Linked DNA regions of Homo sapiens: regions 1, 2 and 4 are each reported to be linked to region 3. The links are microRNA targets in miRTarBase. Many come from high-throughput screens and were not tested one by one. Region 3 holds a microRNA gene; each other region holds the end of a gene's coding sequence.
Evidence for each region. Region 3 holds the annotated microRNA hsa-miR-197-3p (UUCACCACCUUCUCCACCCAGC, at 2,144-2,165, opposite strand). A microRNA usually pairs through its seed, bases 2 to 8, with sites in the 3' UTR of a target mRNA and lowers its output. Matches are read on the target gene's strand: a 7mer-m8 pairs with bases 2 to 8, a 7mer-A1 pairs with bases 2 to 7 and ends in A, and an 8mer does both.

Region 1: miRTarBase lists SPIDR as a target of hsa-miR-197-3p. Seed matches in the 3' UTR shown: 7mer-m8 at 448-454.
Region 2: miRTarBase lists HSPA4 as a target of hsa-miR-197-3p. The part of its 3' UTR that is shown has no 7-base or 8-base seed match.
Region 4: miRTarBase lists CEP19 as a target of hsa-miR-197-3p. Seed matches in the 3' UTR shown: 7mer-A1 at 2,238-2,244.

What each region holds. Positions count from the first base shown.
Region 1 is chr8:47,735,059-47,738,169 of GRCh38, forward strand. SPIDR (scaffold protein involved in DNA repair) reads left to right here. Exons shown (of 20, transcript NM_001080394.4): 20 at 249-1,248. The coding sequence ends at 392. CEBPD (CCAAT enhancer binding protein delta) reads right to left here and starts at 3,106. Exons shown (of 1, transcript NM_005195.4): 1 at 1,855-3,106. The coding sequence starts at 3,062. The coding sequence ends at 2,253. RefSeq lists an enhancer at 2,130-3,068 and a silencer at 2,465-2,654.
Region 2 is chr5:133,104,203-133,107,304 of GRCh38, reverse strand. HSPA4 (heat shock protein family A (Hsp70) member 4) reads right to left here. Exons shown (of 19, transcript NM_002154.4): 19 at 856-3,072. The coding sequence ends at 2,869. Among named protein-coding and RNA genes, the nearest start is that of HSPA4, 54 kb to the right of the region's middle.
Region 3 is chr1:109,597,994-109,601,104 of GRCh38, reverse strand. MIR197 (microRNA 197) reads right to left here and starts at 2,212; the gene lies at 2,138-2,212. GNAI3 (G protein subunit alpha i3) reads right to left here. Exons shown (of 9, transcript NM_006496.4): 9 at 910-3,111.
Region 4 is chr3:196,704,988-196,708,098 of GRCh38, forward strand. CEP19 (centrosomal protein 19) reads right to left here. Exons shown (of 3, transcript NM_032898.5): 3 at 1,290-2,925. The coding sequence ends at 2,564. Among named protein-coding and RNA genes, the nearest start is that of CEP19, 5.7 kb to the right of the region's middle.

The sequences.
Region 1 (3,111 bases), not on the chromosome of region 3:
GTAGTTCCTTCACTTGCTAAAATAAATGGGTGTGTGGGTGTGTGTGTGTGTGGGTGTGTGTGTGTGTGTGTGTGTGTAGTGGCTCTTCATTTGTTTCTCCTTCCTACCACTGTTCTCAGCCATTTGAGGAGTGGAAGGTCGTGGACTGGGGAAAGGGCCTTCCACTCTGGCTCTCTGGTTTTCCGTGTTGTTGGGAACAGTACGTCCCAGGCTGTTTGCTTTAACCAGCGTGCCTTTTATCACTGCAGAGCTACGAAGTGAAGAGTGTCCTCGGAAAGGAAGTGGGGTTGTTAAATTGTTTTGTCCAGTCCGTAACCGCCCACCCGACCAGCTGCATTGGATTGGAGGAAATCGAGCTTCTGAGTGCAGGAGGGGCCTCTGCAGAACACTAGCGGTTGCCGCAGGATCTGTGAACTTTGCAATGTGGCTGCAAGGGTGGTGGTGGTGGTGGTGATTTGGGGTAGTTATTTGTTAACTATGGACACAGTGAACGTAGTTTACGATCTTGAAATGAAACTTAGATTTTTCTGGGGAAATGTTCAGATACAGTTTTGTGAACTGTAAATCAAAATACCTTTTTCTACAGTTTATCTTTTATTTTCTGCAAATTTAGGAACATATTTACTCGTTTTCACATTGAATCTTAAGTTTAAGCTCTTCATTTGGTATTTAGGCAATATATGAGAAAAAAATTTTTTTTGTTCATTTGTAATTTTAACAAGTTGAACATTTTACCATGATTGAACATGTTTTTATTACAGTATTTAACATTCCCCCAAAGAATACCCTGCAAAGTGTAAACCTTTGTCCCATACTGTGATATTACTGTTCTGCTACAATAAATGTCAAACCTAAGCACTTTGCAGTTCACTACTTTTGGGAAAATGTTCTAGGGAACTGTATCACAGGTGAAACTGTTACCCATAAAGTGTAGCTCTCTGAACTGGTGTGATCGTGTCTCTGCTGAATGGTGGTGGGGATAGCTGGCTCCACCACACACACCTGTTTTAATTAGGCTGGGTAATGTGCACGGAGAGCAAAGATCACAGACTAAGGAGCAGTCAGTCGGATATTTGCTTTGCTGGCAAAGATTTAAACCAAGAATTAATTATCTTTGGACACTATAAAGATTTTGTTCCCTTCCTTATAGCAATATAATCATGACAGGCCATGGTTAACTACATCAGATACACGTAGCAGCCGTGACCAAGACATGGTGCCCTAATACCAAGTGTTCTTGGGTTAAAGGCAGGCGGCTTTTTAATTAAATCTTAAAGCACTGCAATTACTGGCAAGACAGCTGGTCTTAAGCAGTTTTGTGACTGCCCTTTTCATCCACTACATGACTATTCCGGCCTTTCTGGAGCACTTTTGAAAATCTACTTGACTCTGTCCACAAGACTGAGGAAAGTGAAAGCAAAGTCCCGGGAAAGCGGGAGATGATTCAGCCCGGGGTTCTGCCCCTCGCCCCTCCAGCAGCCTCTACAGTTAGGGAGCTCTTGAACTGTTCTCAGCAGGGGCCCCCAAAAAGTCAACCCTTCCCCAGGTCTGCGTTCTTCGGGAGAACACCTTCTGCTGGAAAGCTGCTAGCTTACCTGAGCTCAGCCGTGCTCCACCTAGCTTAGGCAAGTTAAATAAGGCCAGGAGAGAGCCTTTAATGCGTTTTAAAAGCGACAGACCCTCTCTCCTGAGTAGCTCGGGCCTGCGCCCCATCCCCCCGCCCCCCCCACACACACACCTGGCGCCCGGGCTCCCTGGTGCTCGCTGGCTGCGGGTCCGGAACGCACCCTTCCCGAGCCGGGTCCTGCGCCACCGGCGGGCGGGCGGGAGTCACTGCGAATATAGGAAGCAGGGGCGATTTCAAATGCTGCTTTATTCTTACAAATACTGTAAAAATTAATATAAAAAAGTGAGCATGCTCAGTCTTTTCCTCTTATCTACAATACAAAGGGTTTGTCTGAAAAGTCTGGTTTTTTTTCTTTTTACAAATGTACCTTAGCTGCATCAACAGGAGTAAGATGTAGAAAAAGCTACCATTACAAAAATAATTTAAGGGAAAATAAACACGTTTAGCTTCTCTCGCAGTTTAGTGGTGGTAAGTCCAGGCTGTAGCTTCTTTGCGCTCCTATGTCCCAAGAAACTGCAGCGGGCACCCGGCGGCTCTGGCTGCGCCAGGGCAGGGCGCGCTCCGCTCCGGGCCGTCGGGTCTGAGGTATGGGTCGTTGCTGAGTCTCTCCCGCCCCGGCCGCGCGTTACCGGCAGTCTGCTGTCCCGGCGGCCGGCAGGAAGGGCGGGCTGGGCAGCTGCTTGAAGAACTGCCGGAGGCCGGCCAGGTCCCGCGTGAGCTGCTCCACGCGCTGGTGCAGCTTCTCGTTCTCAGCCGACAGCTCCACCAACTTCTGCTGCATCTCCTGGTTGCGCCGCTTGGCCTTGTCGCGGCTCTTGCGCACGGCGATGTTGTTGCGCTCGCGCCGCTGCCGGTACTCGGGGCTGCCGCGGTCCGGGCCCCTCTTGCCGGCGCTCTTCTCCCGGGCGGGGCCGGGCGCGGGGGTCTGCCTGGGGCTGCTGCGCGGCGGCTCCGGCGACGTGGGCGGGGTGGGCTGCCCTGCGGCCGCCAAGCTCACCACGGTCTGTGCGCACGCGGCCACCTGCGCGGGCAACAGCGAGCCGGGCGCGTCGCCGTCGCCCCAGTCGGGCTCGCGCTTGAGCAGGCGGGGAGCGGCAGGGCCCGGGCCCAAGGGGCGCGCGGGGCCGCCGGGAAGAAGCTCCAGGGGCCCCGCGCCGCCCGCCTTGTGATTGCTGTTGAAGAGGTCGGCGAAGAGCTCGTCGTGGCACAGCTCCAGGGTGGGCACGGCGGCCATGGAGTCGATGTAGGCGCTGAAGTCGATGGCGCTCTCGTCGTCGTACATGGCGGGGGCGGCGGCGCCTGGCTCGCCTAGGGCCCCTGGCTCGGCCCCGCGGCCCGGCTTGCCCGCCCGGCCCGGTTCGTAGAAGGGCGCAGGCTCCGCAGGCCAGGGCGCGCCGCGCGCCGGGCCGTCCAGGCTGAAGAGCGCGGCGCTCATGGCGGCGTCGGGCCGGGCTCTGCGTCCAAGCGAGGCTGTCACCTCGCTG
Region 2 (3,102 bases), not on the chromosome of region 3:
GCTTTGACCACCTGGGCTCAAGTGATCCTCCTGCCTCAGCCCCCCAAGTATCTGGAATCACAGGTGCACACCACCACACCCAGCTATCTCAGCTCTTTCTACCACATCTAACAATTCCCCTACAGAAACCACTTACATGCTCAGGAGGAAACCAAACCTACTAGACACACGTTTCTCAGACACGTGGCTACAATAGGCCCTGGGTAGGCCCTGGCAGGTAAGCTGCTCCTACAGCCAGAGGACTAGGACTGTGCAAGGGGCATGACCCAGGGAACAAGACCCCTGACCCCTCCTCGTCTAGACCCATGCCTTATCCAGTTAAGGTCTTTTTCACTGGCTTAGTGCCCTTTAAACACCCATCACCACCACATACATACACCAACACACATTCCACGCAGCCACACCACACATCCAGTGGCGCCAACTATTCTAGCACACTCTGGACCGCGCTGTTCTTTGGCCAGGTGTAAGTCCTAGCACTTACCTTTATGCCATAACCCCCGCCTTCTGCTAACAAAACCCTCAAAGTAAGGCCCAGTCACAGGAGCAAGACAAGGATTCCTAACACCAAAGGAACTGGGCCAAGACTCAACTGGAGAGTTTGAGTACAGAAAAATTAGGCAACATTTTCTCACAAAGTAGGCAGTGTGCTTCAGCTGTCACTCTTCAGACTGGAAGTCTTCAACGGATGTTAAGTGAAATTTAGCTCAGAGGGTTCCTACTCCTAGAGAACATTTTTATTGAAAACACACCCCCCGCCCCCACCCCACACACACATACACACAGACACACACACATACACACACACCCCCACACACACACCCAGCAGCCTTCATTATGGAATTAAGGAAACCATTCAAGTTTAAGACAGGTTTATTTTATTAGTTTTTCCTAAACTTGTCTCATGTTTACTGAATGATTTTCTTAGTGTAAGAACGTGACCTGGAGCTTTAACAAATCAGTTTGGATAACGCAACCTGGATAAATGCTTGTCTGTACACAAGCCATCAATTACCACTCTCTGTCCTGGCCTCCATGAAAATCCAATTGGTCTTAAAGCCTGTCTAAGCAGAGAGCAAGCAGACCACATCATCGTGTTTCAACTTGAAATTCACCCCCATCCCAGCACCCACACCCTTCCCCACACACACACACACACACACCAAAAAAAAAAAAAAAAAAAAAAAAAAAAAAAAAAAAAATTTTTTTTTTTTTAAGAAGAAATGGCCATTACGGTCTGGGCCAGTTGTAAAGGGTTGGCTTAATCCTGCAGCCAGCACTTTTAAAATAGCTACTGGCTTCACAGCAGGCCAGCTGGAACTCTTGAAGCATGACAGGTAGAGAACAGAGGATGTGCTAAGAACCTGGCCTTGTTGTGGTGCCTCGAGGCCTCCATGCATGCTTACACACCAACATAAGTATACTTTCCCCTTCCTCCTCCTAAGCAATTGTTCTCCATTGCACTTTAGAGCCTGTAACACTCAAACTTTTCAATGTTATCTAGAGATGGACAAACGCTTAATTCTAACTATGCAAGATAGCATCTTATTTCTAACAACATAGGCCAAAAGTAACAGAGAGGCACTCTGTTATACAGAATATCAATTTTTACAAAGATTCAAAACATTACCAACAAGCCCTGTAACAGTTTCTTAAAGCAGGTACCAACTCTGGCCTCAAACACAGGCTTCCCTTGGAGTTTCCAAAATGCCTCACTCCTGTCAACACTGCCCCAAAAAGCAGTCAGAGGAATGCTTTGGTATACCTGACATTGGCCACACAGTTAAGAATGAGGTGTTGTTATAACATCAGGCACCACACTTCTTTAACACTAATTTCAGACTCATCCAGTACAATCCAGTGTATCTTAGTTTTTTTTGCATCATCTGTCAGCTGCTTAACACGTACAAATTGGCAGGTTCATGACAGATATTAACACTTAACACACAAGTGATTGTGAATGAGCTAAAAAGAACTTTTAACTCTTGTTCTAGGAGTTCAAGCTATACCTCAAAATTATACAGAACATCTCCCACCTGAATAAACAGGCCAGGATACAAATCTTTACACCAAAATTAACAAGGATTTAATTCCTCAGTTAAATTTACCATGGCTATATCCAACAGTATATCTACCCAATTCTAATCTTCTGAAAATTATTTAGACCTTGATGCTTGGGGTATTCATGAACATACTTTCAGGAAGAGCCTCCAGGTTTAAAGCCCTCAGTTAACAACTTACTCTAGGCAAGGGGGTCTATTTTCCCAAGAGAAGTACATGGCATTTATAATGGGAGCCCTTTTATTGGGAGAGAGGGAAGAGAACACAGGTGAGGGTGAAGGTGAAATATGAAGAAGCTCAGAGCACACCTTTGTTCCTCTGCCGTGTTAATCCATGCCGTGCCATGCTCCAGCCCTCACAAAGAGGGGGACCCCATCCCCACACCAGGCAGGGAGCATTTAAAGCAATCTCCACAACAGATTTTTAAAGCATAATTAGAGCTCCTGCCATGTAAGTCATAATGAAAAGTCTGCTGGATAGCTAGAGCTGTAGCTATAGCTCAACTTTCCAAAACAAACTTATTCTTGTAGACACATGGTTAAACATAAAGGAGTGAAGCATAAGCTCAGTAAGACTAACTGGGCTTCTAAATAGTACCATTATGAAAAAGATACAATGCACTTAATTTCTGTATCTAACTATTTAGAAGTGAAAATGCTCCATACATTACCTATTTCCCCTCCCCGAAAATCCCCTAAAAACTGACTAAGAAATCTTCAGTATTCACTTGCGCTAGTTGATATTTAGAACAAAGTTGACAACTTAAAGCTTTATAATAGTCTGTTTTAATAGAAACAAGTGTTGGAATCAATCAATGTCCATTTCAGGAAGCTTCTTGTCTGAATCCGAAGGCACAGCTGTGTCTGTACCCTGCTCAGCAGCCTGGGGGCCTGGGTTGTCTCCTTGTCCATCCACTGGTCCATTCTGCTCTGCATTTTTTTGTTCCTCTTTTGGAGGTTCCACTTTGGGTTTGGGCTTTGAAATTATAGGGCTACAAGTACTTGTCAGCTCCTGGAATGGGTAAGACAGAAAACTGGTTTC
Region 3 (3,111 bases):
CCCTTACTATACAAGCTATGATCTTGTCTATTCAGGCCCCAAACATAATTTATCCCATTTATTCCATCTCCAAATAGGATAGCCCTACTTTCCCTCAAATAGTACCAGATTGTTGATTATTTTATTAACTTTTCCTTGGTCTTTCAATCTAGGTATAAATTGGTTATTGACCAAACTATAAGTCTAACTCAGGATCCTTGGTTATTAATGTTCACACAGAACCTGCCTTATAGTACTAGTACAGAAGCAGAGCCAGTGGGACAGGTCTTCTGACAGGTCTTAGGTCAGAACACAAGTCTCTAGCAGACTAAAACATGGTTGTATTTAGTCCTCTTCTTTTGGGATAGCTGGGGGATATCCCAACTTTTAACTGGTTTATCAACAAACTCACACAAGCCACCTTGTACAAACATTATGTAAAGTGTTCATCTTGGAGGATAGAGCAACATTCTATAGCTGTTTTTTTACTGAGTTTGGGATCTGCCTATATTCATCTTATGATGTTTTCAAGCTAAAACTCTTCTGGCAAGTCTACATGAAATGCAACAGGGGCCCTTGAGCACCCATTCACCTATTACCTTAGAACACAGTCAGAATAATTTTCTCAAACCCTTGGTCCAGAATGGGCTCTCCCATGATTAAAGGTAAGAGGACTTCACCTCGATGCTCTTGATAGGCTTCCAGAAAAGGCATTCACCCTTACCCTAGCTCAACTGTTTGTCAGGCCCAACGATTGTTCCCAAACCTTACATGTTAGAGCTGCAGAAAAAGTGCATTTGTACTTTTCCTGCACAATTAGCTTATTTTTATCTCATGGACATTTTGATTGTATTCATGAAAAGTTCTTATATAAAACAGCTATAAGAAAGATTAAAATAAAAATTAAGTCATTATCTTTCTTTTGCCTCATTTTAAATTTACACCGTACTGTTGAATTTTTATTTACTTTAAGCCATCAAGTTTTTTTTTTTTTTGTAACCAGATCAGAAACAAATATTTAACCCTATTTTCTGGCATGCAACCTTAATTCTTAAGACTGCTAAAGTTAGAACAAACTTAAAAATAGTCCAGCCCCATCACTAGCAATTTATAGATCAAAAACTGAAGCCCAGGAAGGAAGAGTATCTTCATCAAGATCACAACGCTAGGCAGTAGCAGAACTAGAACTCCAGAACAGGTCTTCTCAATCCAAAGCCTGTGATGATGTCCAGCTACCAACAGAGCACCATACACTATAAAATCAAAGCCAATTTCTTGTTCTTCTAAGCTCCTCCCATTCCCAACCAAATTCTTGGTCATTTTTTCATTATGCCGTCTCTAAATCGTGGACATTTAACAAAACCACCTCCAAGCTAAGACAAATAGATCTCAAAATAGAATATGAAAACAGCATAAAATCACAAAAATATAACTAAGTTTGCTTGTTTGTTGAAGGTAAAATTTCCTCTTCATATTCTTAGAGGGAGAGACCATAATGTACTTCCCTAGCATAGCATGATTAAAGAGACATTACTAACAGTAAATCAAATGTAAATTACGTTACATTTCACATAAATCTGATAGTTTTCCTTTTTTAGACAAAAATACAATATGATTGACACAAAAGGACAAATACTATGATTCCACTTATATGAGGTATCTAAAATAGTCAAATTCATAGAGACAAAGGAAAATGCTGGTTACCAGGGGCTGAAAGAAGGTGGGGCATGGGGAGTTACTGTTTAACAGGTACAGAGTTTCAGTTCAGGAAGATGAAAACAAGTTCTGGAAATGGATGGTGGTGATGGCTGTGCAACAGTGTGAATGTACTTAATGCCACTGAACTGTACACTTAAGATGGCAAATTTTGTTATATATGCTTTATCACAATTTTAAAAATAGAAAAAATATACTATAATTAGAAATTTGTATTTCTGTGGATAAAAGGAAGAATGGATAAAAGCGGCACAAAAGTTGTCTTAAAAGCAACATAAAAGACACATTAACTTGAAACAGTTCCTACTCTGGTAATAAAATCCACTCACATGTACCTCCAAATAGTCCAAAACAGAGTATTCCTTCCCATCCCCACGGTGAGACATAACAGCATTCAAAACCCACTCTATACTTGGAGATGTGCCGTAGACCAAAGTGTGCCGGCCATGCTGGGTGGAGAAGGTGGTGAAGGGTGAAGAGCTCTTACCTCCCACTGCCCTCTCTACCCGGCACAGCCCCCAGAGCACAGATTCCAGAAGGATTTCGGTGTTGGGCCAGGGACTGCAAGTGTGACAGAGCCTCTGGTGGTCCTGCTAGGTAAAAGCATGAAAACATTTCTGTGAGGTCAGAAGACACTGGAGACTGCAGAAGGGAACTTTTCTGTCTTTTTGCCATGAAAAAGCACTAGTATAAGCAGAAAATAGACAGCTGGATTTAAATGTAAAACAAAGCAAAGACCTTTTCACCCTGCTTCACGAATTTTAGAGCAATTTATAGTTCAACTTCATTTCAGGTCTTCAAAATGAATATGGGCAAAGTAATGCTGTAAAAGACCACCCACTACGTTGAATACCTTTGTTGGTGCTGCCTTAGGATTTTTTTTTTTCTGTGCAGTATAATCCTGAGTATCATAACATTTACAAAGCATTTTCAAATATGTTATTTCTATCTGATGAGAACCACAGAATATCACAGCAGGAAGGAATAATTTAGTCCATCTTTAGATAACAGATGAGTGATTTAAGACTGAAAGAATACACAAGATTCCATAGCTGGTTGGAAGCAGAGACAAGACCAGAACCCAGCATTCCAAACAACTCTCCAACCTCGTAAGATTCTGAGAGGTCTCAGGACCTTTATCCTACATGAGCAAGAATAAACAGAACAGGTGATTTCTTGTGTTTTGTTGTATCTACTGGAAATCTCTCTTACATATAAATAAGCATCTTAGTAAAAATGTCTGGATAACCTAAGGAGAATTTTGGGCGTAGGGAGAGGTAAAAGATAAGAGGAGACAGATAAACCAGGTTGTTCATAATTTAATATTCCTGCTGTCACAGATTTTATAGCTTAGTGAATGCTGGTACACTGAGATACTTCTATCCCAGCAGTGTATTAATATTTATTATTTGATTA
Region 4 (3,111 bases), not on the chromosome of region 3:
TCCTGAAATGCATACCAATTTTTCCTTGCCTCCTTCAGGCCTTTGCTCATCATGTGATCTAAAACAGTGGCTCCCATCCCCTCTATCATTCTCCTTTTCATCCCATTTTGAGCACTTACCATCTGATGACACTATTCTATGCATTTATGTCTCTGCTCTCCAACTGTAAACCCAGGACTTTGCTGTATATACTGCTGTAACCCCAAACTCCAGAACAGTACAGGCTTAGAATGTAGTAAGTGCTTATTAACTACAAATAATGAATGAATGAACGTCTATTGGTGACAACTTAGTATCTATTAAAACTTAGAATGCACATACTTAGTAATTCCCCTTTAGGCATTTATCTAATAGATATCCTTGCATATGTGCAAAACAGAGAATGTACAAGGTTATTTGTTGTAGCACTGTTTGTAGTCATGAAAGGAGAAAACAACCCAAGGATAAATTTTTTTTTTTTTTTTTGAGACAGAGTTTCACTCTTGTTGCCCAGGCTGGAGTGCAATAATGGCATGACCTCGGCTCACCACAACCTCCACCTCCCGGGTTCAAGCGATTCTCCTGCCTCAGCCTCCGGAGTAGCTGGGATTACAGGCATGCACCACCACACCCGGCTAATTTTGTATTTTTAGTAGAGACGGGGTTTCTTCATGTTGGTCAGGCTGGTCTTGAACTCCCAACCTCACGTGATCTGCCCGCCTCAGCCTCTCAAAGTGCTGGGATTACAGGCATGAGCCACTGCGCCCAGCAACCCAAGGACAAATTTTAAAATAAGTTACCTATAGCCAGGCACAGTGGCTCACATCTGTAATCCTAGCACTTTGGTAGGCTGAGGTGGGTGGATCACTTGAGCCCAGGAGTTCCAGACAAGCCTAGGCAACATGGTGAAACCCTGTCTCTACAAAAAATACAAAAATTAGCCAGGTGTGGTGGTGGGCACCTGTACTCACAGCTACTTGGGAGGCTGAGAGGGGAGGCTCACTTGAGCCCAGGAGGTTGAGGCTTTGGTGAGCTGTGATCATGCCACTGCACTCCAGCCTGGGTGACAGAGTGAGACCCTGTCTCAAATAAAAAATAAACTACCTATATCTATACAATAAAGAATAAAGGAATACTATGTAGATATGGAAAGATCTCTAATTCAGAAAATTATTTGGCTCCCTTTGGCTACTGTATGTATGAGATCTGACTATTTCAAAACTCTGGTGATATCACTACAAGAATGAGCTCCCTTTTAATGAAGTGCTTAATGGTAAGGAGAGTGGAAGTGAACAGGTAGAAACACTGAGTAATTATTTTCAGTTTTATTTAATAAACATCAATTTCCTTGTAGAAAACATAGAATTTCTACCAACTAAACAATATTGTAATAAGGATAAATGTATCAAATCACAGATAATGTTGTTAAACGAAGATGCTGTCTTGCAGATCCATTCATGAACAGGCCTAAACTGGCAGTGCCTATTGTTCATTTATTATGGGTGGATTTCCCATTTTACAAACAAACCTTTTATTTATGGGAAGAGGTTCAGCGTTTCGCAATGTCTTTAGTATGTATTTCCCGATACCGGAGGGGCAGAATTCCCCCTCTGTCCATCAAGTGACATCTGCTTGCAGCTGTAGGGAATTTTGCAGGGTACTCTTTTCCAGAGATAAATAATATAAAGATATAACACATAAGAGGTAATTCCCTGGTAACCATATATGTCCCCCAATCTTGTCTTGTCAAACTATAATTTGCTTATGGTTCCTCAAAAAAAAAATTGTTTCTTGTCCCTTTACTACTTCCCCTCTCCTTCTTTTCAGTTGCTCTTATCAGGAATCCTACACAAGCATCTACCTAAACACTACTATTTCAAGGGCCAGGCCACCTCCTATCTCTTTACTAAAGGACAAAGTCTTCCCTTACTATTCTACTCTACAGTAATATATGCTCTGGCCTTCTTTAGCCTTTATCATGCATTTGGCACTAATGTTTGTGTTGCTTAATACTGCTAATTAGCTTTTCACAGGTTTTGACATCTTCCAGTCAGATTGTAAGCTTTTTTTTTTTTTTTTTTTTGAGATGGAGTTTTGCTCATCGCCCAGGCTGGAGTACAATGGCGCGATCTCGGCTCACTGCAACCTCAGCCTCCCAGGTTCAAGCGAATCTCCTGCCTCAGCCTCCTGAGTAGCCGGGATTACAGGCACCCGCCACCACGCCTGGCTAATTTTTGTATTTTTAGTAGAGGCGAGGTTTCACCATGTTGGCTAGGCTGGTCTCGAACTCCTGACCTTAGGTGATCCACCCGCCTCAGCCTCCCAAAGTGCTGGGATTACAGGCGTGAGCCACCGCACCCGGCATGATTGTAAGCTCCTTAAAGGCAGATTCCTTTATTCTGTTTTTCCCATACTCCTCATGCACCTACATAGTAGATGCTTTAAATGTCCTGGTTTTGAAAAGTAACATGGTCAATCCCCTATAACCCAACATATTTAGTATTCTTTACAGCTTCTTCCAGAACCAGTCTGGTAATAAACATGGATATTCTGCTAGCCCAATGCATGTTTTGAGTGTTTGGTATCAGAACTCATCAGCTGACTCTGTGTCCCAGCCACAGGACTGCAGTTGATCGTCCTGTGGAAATTCAACCTCAATGTCATAAACAAAATTTGGATCATCCTTCTTCTTCTGATTTTTCTCAAAAAGTTCATCCATGATGCTCTTTCTTTTGGCAAGCTCCTTGTCATCTAGTTTGTTCAGGTCTTCCTCAGGATCAATGGTTGTTTCCCGTTGAATTTGTTCCATTGTTTCTGCCAGACTCTGCCCCGACAAGTAACCTCGTAAAAAACTGAATAGCTTCTCTAGCTGCCTCAGGGATACTTGTTCTAGGTAACTCTTGTGTCGCGGATTATTCTTTAATTGTTCAGCAGCTCTGGTGCAATCTGGGAGAGAGAAGAAAACTATATACCACATACGTACCACGTACATCATATACGCCATAAACTACTGCAACAGCCAAAACAGAACAAAAACTCTGAACCCTGAAAATATTATCTCCATTATAGTCAAGTAGCTAAATGGCTTGATTGGAATGAATTACTTTGTAGAACCATTCCTTTATATTGAGC